Linked DNA regions of Homo sapiens. The gene in region 2 interacts genetically with the main gene of each other region. Each region holds a gene or a part of one and is shown on either strand. Other genes may lie near its edges.

Region 1 (3,500 bases), on a different chromosome or scaffold from region 2:
TGTTGGCAAGACGGGCAATGCCCTCTGGACAGATGGCCTCCATGGCTACCATATTGGTGGTAATAAGGGCTGAAGGAGTGGCAGTGCCACTGCCTTCTGAACCTGCCCCACTGTCCAGGGGCAAAGTGCCCACACTCAGAGCTACACCTGGGCCTCCCTTCTTATTCTGGTGGGTCTTGATATGTTTTGACAGGTGGTCACTCCTCATGAAGCGCTTAGGACACTCAGGGCAGGCAAATTTCTTCTCACCTAGGTAAAGGAAGAAAAGATAAGAAGCTGACATGTTAGGAAGTGAGGTTACCTTACCCAATTCAGTGCTTACTCTACTAAGCTGAGTAAGGCCAGTATGAGAAGGTGATCAAAAACAAGAAAAATCTTCAAGTGGCTGGGCGTGGTGGCTCACGCTTGTAATCCCAGCACTTTGGGAGGCCAAGGCGGGCAGATCACGAGGTCAGGAGATCAAGACCACGGTGAAACCCTGTCTCTACTAAAAATACAAAAAATTAGCCGGGCGTGGTGGCGGGCGCCTGTAGTCCCAGCTACTCGGAGAGGCTGAGGCAGGAGAATGGCGTGGACCCGGGAGGCGGAGCTTGCAGTGAGCCGAGATCGCGCCACTGCACTCCAGCCTGGGCGACAGAGACTCTGTCTCAAAAAAAAAACAAAAAACAAAAAACTTCAAGTATATTTTCCTTTTGGCGGGGGCGTGAGGAAGAAAACTAGATAAAGGTTGGGGAGTACTCGGTAAGGAAGGTAGAACTTAGCAGTTTTAAAAGTAAGGCAGGGCAGAGACTAAGAGTAATGGTTTCAATGCTTCACCTTCAAAAATCCCACTCAAAATCTAGCTCCTTATTTTATTTTATTTTATTTTTTTGAGACAGAGTCTTGCTCTGTCGCCTAGGCTGGAGTGCAGTGGCACAATCTCAGCTCACTGTAACCTCCGCCTCCAAGGTTCAAGCAATTCTCCTGCCTCAGCCTCCTGAGTAGCTGGGATTACAGGTGTGCACCAGCACGCTTGACTATTTTGTAATTTTAGTAGAGACAGGGTTTCCCCATGTTGGCCAGGCTGGTCTTGAACTCCTGACCTCAAGAAATCCACCCACCTCGGCCTCCCAAAGGGCTGGGATTACAGGCATGAGCCACGACACCTGGCTCCTTCCTTTTTTTTTGAGACAGTGTCTCGCTCTGTCGCCCAGGCTGGAGTGCAGTGGCACGATCTTGGCTCATTGCAAGCTCCGCCTCCCAGGTTCATGCCACTCTCCTGCCTCCACCTCCTGAGTAGCTGCAACTACAGGCGCCTGCCACCATGCCCGGCTAATTTTTTTGTATATTTAGTAGAGACGGGGTTTCACCATGTTAGCCAGAATGGTCTCGATCTCCTGACCTCGTGATCTGCCCGCCTCGGCCTCCAAAAGTGCTGGGATTACAGGCGTGAGCCACTGCACCCAGCCCCTCCTTCCTTCTTAAAAATTTTCCAGATTAACTCCAATTCCATTTGTGACCCATATATTCAGTTTCAAATTAAGTTGCTCAGAAATTTTAGTTATTTTGTAGGTATATTTTGTGTTTTTCATTCTAGTCTATTACTATTTTTCTCTCCCATAGGCTCTTGCTCACCTGTGTGTGTACGTTTGTGCCTCTGTAGCTCATCCGAACGTGTGAAGCGTTTCCCACAGTATGACCAGGTACACATAAATGGCCTCTCGCCTGTATGCCAGCGCAAGTGTGCCCGCAGGTGAGAGGTCTTGCCATACACTTTCCCACAGCCTTGGATGTGGCAAATATGCTGTTTCTTTTTGCCAGGATCCCCCGAGCCCCTGAAAGTGAGGACACAACTGTTAATCATTCATTCTAGAGAAAACTAAAGAACCACAAAGTATCAACAGCAATCACCCAATCGACACCAAACTAACCCAAACTTTTATTTTTTGAAAAAGTCTTCTTTTTTGTTTTTTTGAGAGAGTCTCACTCTGTCGTCCAGGCTGGAGTACAGTAGCATGATCACGGCTCACTGCAACCTCCGCCTCCTAGGTTCAAGCGATTCTCCTGCCTCAGCCTCCCGAGTAGCTGGGATTACAGGTGCACACCACCATGCCCAGCTAATTTTTATATTTTTAGTGCAGATGAGGTTTCGCAATGTTGGCGAGGCTGGTCTCGAACCCCTGAGCTCAGGTGATGGATCTGCCCACCTCCGCCTCCCAAAGTACTGGGATTACAGGCGTGAGCCACTGCACTGGACCAAGGCTTCTTTTTTTTGTTCGTTTGTTTGTTTTGAGACGGAGTCTCGCTCTGTCGCCCAGGCTGGAGTGTAATAGCGCAATCTTGGCTCACTGCAACCTCCACCTCCCGGGTTCACGCCATTCTCCTGCCTCAGCCTCCCGAGTAGCTGGGACTATGGGTGCCCGCCACCACACCCGGCTAATTTTTTGTATTTTTAGTAGAGACGGGGTTTCACCATGTTAGCCAGGATGGTCTCGATCTCCTGACCTTGTGATCCACCCACCTCGGCCTCCCAAAGTGCTGGGATTACAGGCGTGAGCCACCGCACCCGGCCAAGCCTTCTTTTTTAAAAAGGTTTCTAGGGGCTGGGAGTGATGGCTCACGCCTGTAATCCCAACACTTTTGGAGGCCGAGGCAGGTGGATTGATCACCTGAGGTCAGGGATCCGAGACCAGCCTGGCCAACATGGCGAAACCTCATCTGTACTAAAAAATACAAAAATTGTTCAAGACCAGTCTTATCAACATGGTCCCCATCTCTACTAAAAATACAAAATTAGCCAGGCGTGGTGGCACATGCCTGTAATCCCAGCTACTTGGGAGGCTGAAGCAGAGGAATTGCTTGAACCTGGGAGGTGGAGGTTGCAGTGAGCCGAGATCGTGCCGTTGCACTCCAGCCTGGGCAACAAGAGCGAAGCTCTTTTTTTTTTTTTTGAGACAGAGTCTCACTCTGTCGCCCAGGCTAGAGTGTAACGGCACGATCTCGGTTCACTGCAACCTCCACCTCCCAAGTTCGAGCAATTCTCCTACCTCAACCTCCCAAGTAGCTGGGATTACAGGCACCTGACACCACGCCGGTTAATTTTTGTACTTTTAGTAGAGATGGGGTTTCACCATGTTGGCCAGGCTGGTCTTGTACTCCTGACCTCAGGTGATCCGCCCGCCTTGGCCTCCCAAAGTGCTGGGATTACAGGCGTGAGCCACCGTACCCGGATGAAGATCTGTCTTAAAAAAAAAAAAAGGCCGGGCGCCCCCATGGCTCATGCCTGTAATCCCAGCACTTTGGGAGGCCAAGGCAGGCGGATCACAAGGTCAGGAGATCGAGACCACCCTGGCTAACACGGTGAAACCCCGTCTCTACTAAAAATACAAAAAATTAGCTGGGCGAGGTGGCGGGCACCTGTAGTCCCAGCTACTAGGGAGGCTGAGGCAGGAGAATGGCGTGAACCCAGGGGGCGGAGCCTGCAGTGAGCCAAGATTGTGCCACTGCACTCCAGCCTGGGC
Region 2 (3,964 bases):
AAAATACCCACGTTGAAGGCTCGATGTCCACATCTTAGGCCTAAACAGCTGGGAAGATGTGAAATCACCTTTGTGCTGCCCGGCGGCTTAGGAAGGCCTTCATGGCGGGCCTCCTCCCAGGGCCATCCAGAGGAAAGGTGGATGTTAATACAGTTGACGAACATGCAGAAAGAGGCCCTGCGCCCAGCCCAAGGGCACATTTAGTTTTACGCGTTGGCCAAACATTTATCAGTGCCCACGGAGTGCTTCAGTGTGGGGCTAGGCAGTTTTGTGGCATAGAATCCAAATCAAATTCTACACTTTCCCCGGAACACTTCGCTCCTACGGGATTCTAGGAGTAGTTCCCGCAGACCAGAGATGGAGCAGCGCAGACCATCATGGAGGGTGCACTGTGGCCAGCCCTCTTAGAAACAGAAAGTGTCATCTGGAGCGGAGAACGAGGGGCTGCTTTATTCTAATGGGCTTTTTCTTTAGATTGTCTCAGTCCTCTGTTGGATCGCGTTCACCCCTGGCGCCAGGGCCCTCTGGCCCCACTCAAACGTTTGTGTGTGTGTGTGTGTGTGTGTGTTGATGTTGTTGCGGGGGGAGTGTTGAGATCGCCTCTCCCCTCAACCTGTGGCATAGTCAGCAGACATCAACATGCCCAGCTGTCTTTTTCTTTTGGCTTCAAAATAAACCTCAAGGGTGGACAGTGAAGAAGCATCAGAGCGCAGGACTAGTGCAGGTCGGGGATGGGGTCTGCTGGGGACTGCCCCCGGATAAAATGTGGAACAAATTATCCCAACACAGCCGGGATCGCTTTGACTTCGGGGTCTTGGGGCCCAAGGCCCTAAGCGTTGGAAAGGACACTTTGCCTATGCAGCAGCTTTCCCGGCAGAAAGTGAATTCAAATCGAAGATGTTTCACCACGCGGGTTTTGCCTAAGTATGCATTTTTTCACACCTCTCTAAAAAACAACCACAAACAAACAGAAAAAACAAAACAAAACAAAGAAAACACAACGATCCTTTGGACTTTCAGACCACCAGGATGTGAGTCAAACGAAATCTCGTGTTAACACCCCGCTTCTTCCCTGCTGGAGGCCACCGGGAGTCCGGGAAGCGCTTGGCCCCCAACTAGCTTTCCGCCGGGCCGCCCGAGGGGCGGGCGCCGAGAGAAACGTCACTCCCTTCAGCGGCGACAACCCAGAGCGGGGCCACCTTCTCCGGCCATTAGGCTTAGGGAGGGACTGGCCTTTCAAAGACGTTTAATCCCCAGATAAAAATCATTCCTCAGCATCACGCCATTGAAATCTGGCTGCTATTATGCCGAGCAAAATAATCGGAGGAAACGAGGAAAACTTGGGAATTTCCCGTGCTCCTGAAATATCTCCGAGCGTGTTCTCTGAGTAGAGCAGCCAGGGGGCCGTGAGGCCTTGGAGCGAACCGCCTTGGGCACCTGGAGTCCACTTTAATGGCTCAGTCCTAGACGTTTGGGAGCTTCCCATAGGATTAGCGGGGGCGCCTTCCCCTAATTGACTTGGTGCCCCGCCCCCTCCACTGGAACCTGAATGTCCCCACCCCTGAATCATCCATCCGCCCAAAGCACCAACTATCTGCCTCAAACTCAAAGGGCATGGGGAGGTAGAATTCTGTAGGAGCTTCGGAACCTCTAGGCAAAGAGGTACTTGAAAGGGAAGAGGGGCTGGGGGACACCAGCTCCTACTGCGAGAAAGTGAAACTCCGGGTGCAGGGAAGATACCGCACCACACACATTCATCCGCTGGGGTGAAGCCGATGAAACAGAGTTTGGGATCAGATGAGGGATCATGGACCCCTGAGGTCGTTTGGTGGGGGCAGGAGGACAGGGTGCCCAGACATCGGTGTCCTATCCGTTAACTCCCACCCGCAGCGTCTCTGGGCCAAGGCGAGGAGGTCTGGAACCTTCTTCCTGGGTGGGAGTGGAGGGAGGCGCAAGACCCGGCCTTGCAGCCCACGGCTCCCTAGCACCGGCTGCAGGTACGCAGGCGCCGGAGGCCACCAGGAGCCCTCGGGTCCCACACCCCACCCGGCCCCCACCCGGCCCCCTCCCTCTGCGCCTGGGTTCTGGCTACTCACTGGCCGGCGGCGGGGAGAAGCGGGGGCTCTGCATCCACGGGGTCCTCTCGGGCTTCTCGGGGCTCTCGGCTTTGACGAGCGCATCTTCTGGCAGCTTGAGGAGTCCCCCCACCGAGAAATGGCCGAGCGGCCGCGGCGAAGAGGGCGCGTCCGGGGCTCCCAGCGACCCCGGCGGGACGCCCAGTGGCTGCGCCGAGCCACCCGCCGCCTGCACGCCCTCGGAGGGCGCCAGGGCGCTCTCCTTGGCCCCCGGCTTCCTGTGGTCGGCCATGAGCGCCTCCACGCTGAAGGGCAGGAGCGAAGGGGACACTTTGGGCTTGGCCCCCTCCTCGTCCGCGCCCATGGCGGCTGCCGTGGCCGCGGCGGCGCTGGGGGCCTGGCCCGCGCCTCCCCCCGCCGGCTTGCCGAAGGCGGAGTCCTCCACTTTGACACCGAGTGGCAAAGAAGTCATGTCAGCAGCCGGGGCCATGCAGAGCCGGGCCCCCCCTTCTGCCGCAGCACTGGCCAGCCGCCGGGCATGGGCTCCGGGCGGGCTGGGAGCGCGGCCGGCCTCTGCGAGCGCCCGGGGCCCTGGCCGGGCGGACCCTCCCGCGCGCGCCTCCCGCCCCTCCCCAGCAGGCCAGCTCCGGCGTGCTGGGCCTGGCCTCCGGTCGCTGCCGCCGCGCAGGCAGAGTTCCCGGGAGCACTCGCCGGCTCCGGGCCCTACCGCGGCTCCCCAGAGAACTTGCTAATAAGGCGAGGCCAGCGGGGCGGCGGCCAATCAGCGCGCGAGGGGGCGGGCCCGGAGCGATCCATTGGGCCGCGCTCCTGGGGACTCGCCCGGAGGCGCGCTGGGCCTGGGGGCACGCAGGGCAGGGCCCAGGCGGCGGAGGGCAGGGGAGGAGAGGGGGTGCCCGGGAAACTTTCCTCTGCGCTGAAGCCCAAGAGGCCCTCTCTGCGGGAGTCCCCTGGGTCTCTATCTTTCTGTGTTCCCGGGGGATTTTCCCTTGTTCTCGTTCCTTCTCTTCTGCCCTCCTCTCCTCCCCTCCCCTCCCCTCCTCAGCCCTCTTTTCCGCTCCTCTTTTTTTCCCCGTCCTTGTTTCTCTCCTCTACTGCTTCTTTTACCTTTCTCTTTAGTCTGTGGCTGGGTTTCCCTGTGCCCCCCTCCACTGTCTGACCCCCCCTCTTCTTCTACCACAATAATTTGAGTTGAGGTTATTTCTTACACATTCCTTTTATATATAGTTTTTAAAATACGCATGGCTATTTATCCTAGGAGAAAGACATACTATTAACTTCTTTTCAAGAAACGAAACAAAACCAAACCTTCATTTTCTTCCTGTTCTGAAATCTTGTAAACTTTACCTCGAGGTAAAAGTGGGCCTTTGTCTCTAACTTAGAGCTGGAGTAAACCTTGCGGGAAGAAGCTAGCTTCCTGTAGTGCCAAGGATGTGAGAATACGTAAGATTATCTAGAATCTGCAGTCGGTTTTCATACACGATGTGTATTCCCCCCCCCCCACCCTCGCTCTGAACTTCTGTCCCAAGGGTCACAACACCTATAGCGCCCGGGCGGGGAAAGGAGCTGCCAGATCCTTTTGATATAGAACTTACTGAAATAAAACCAACAGAATCGTCAATGAAACACCGATCTGGCCTTAAGGTGACCTCAAACAACGCGTCCTCGGAAACAATGACATGTCCCTATCTCTGGGCCGCTGATCCTGGAGGGGAGAGGCACATTTGGGGGAGGGGGCTGGGAAAAGAGGAAAGTTCCTGGAGGTGGACTCTAGTGTGGGACTTGAGAACTCTTCTTTTGCCAATTTCGGAGAAAACGTGATTTAATGTTTGCTGTTAATAATAATAATAATAATAAAGACAGAAAAAATG

The links. A genetic interaction does not mean that the proteins touch.
Region 1: of MSX1 (region 2) and SP1, changing one suppresses a phenotype caused by changing the other (phenotypic suppression), as found in Homo sapiens cells (one study listed by BioGRID).

What each region holds. Positions count from the first base shown.
Region 1 is NC_000012.12:53,407,676-53,411,175, reverse strand, and holds part of SP1 (transcription factor Sp1), read right to left. Parts: intron 1,815-3,500; coding exon 1,615-1,814; intron 250-1,614; coding exon 1-249. UniProt on the Homo sapiens protein: Transcription factor that can activate or repress transcription in response to physiological and pathological stimuli.
Region 2 is NC_000004.12:4,858,501-4,862,464, reverse strand, and holds the start of MSX1 (homeobox protein MSX-1), read right to left. Parts: upstream 2,801-3,964; 5' UTR 2,566-2,800; coding exon 2,097-2,565; intron 1-2,096. UniProt on the Homo sapiens protein: Acts as a transcriptional repressor. Capable of transcription autoinactivation.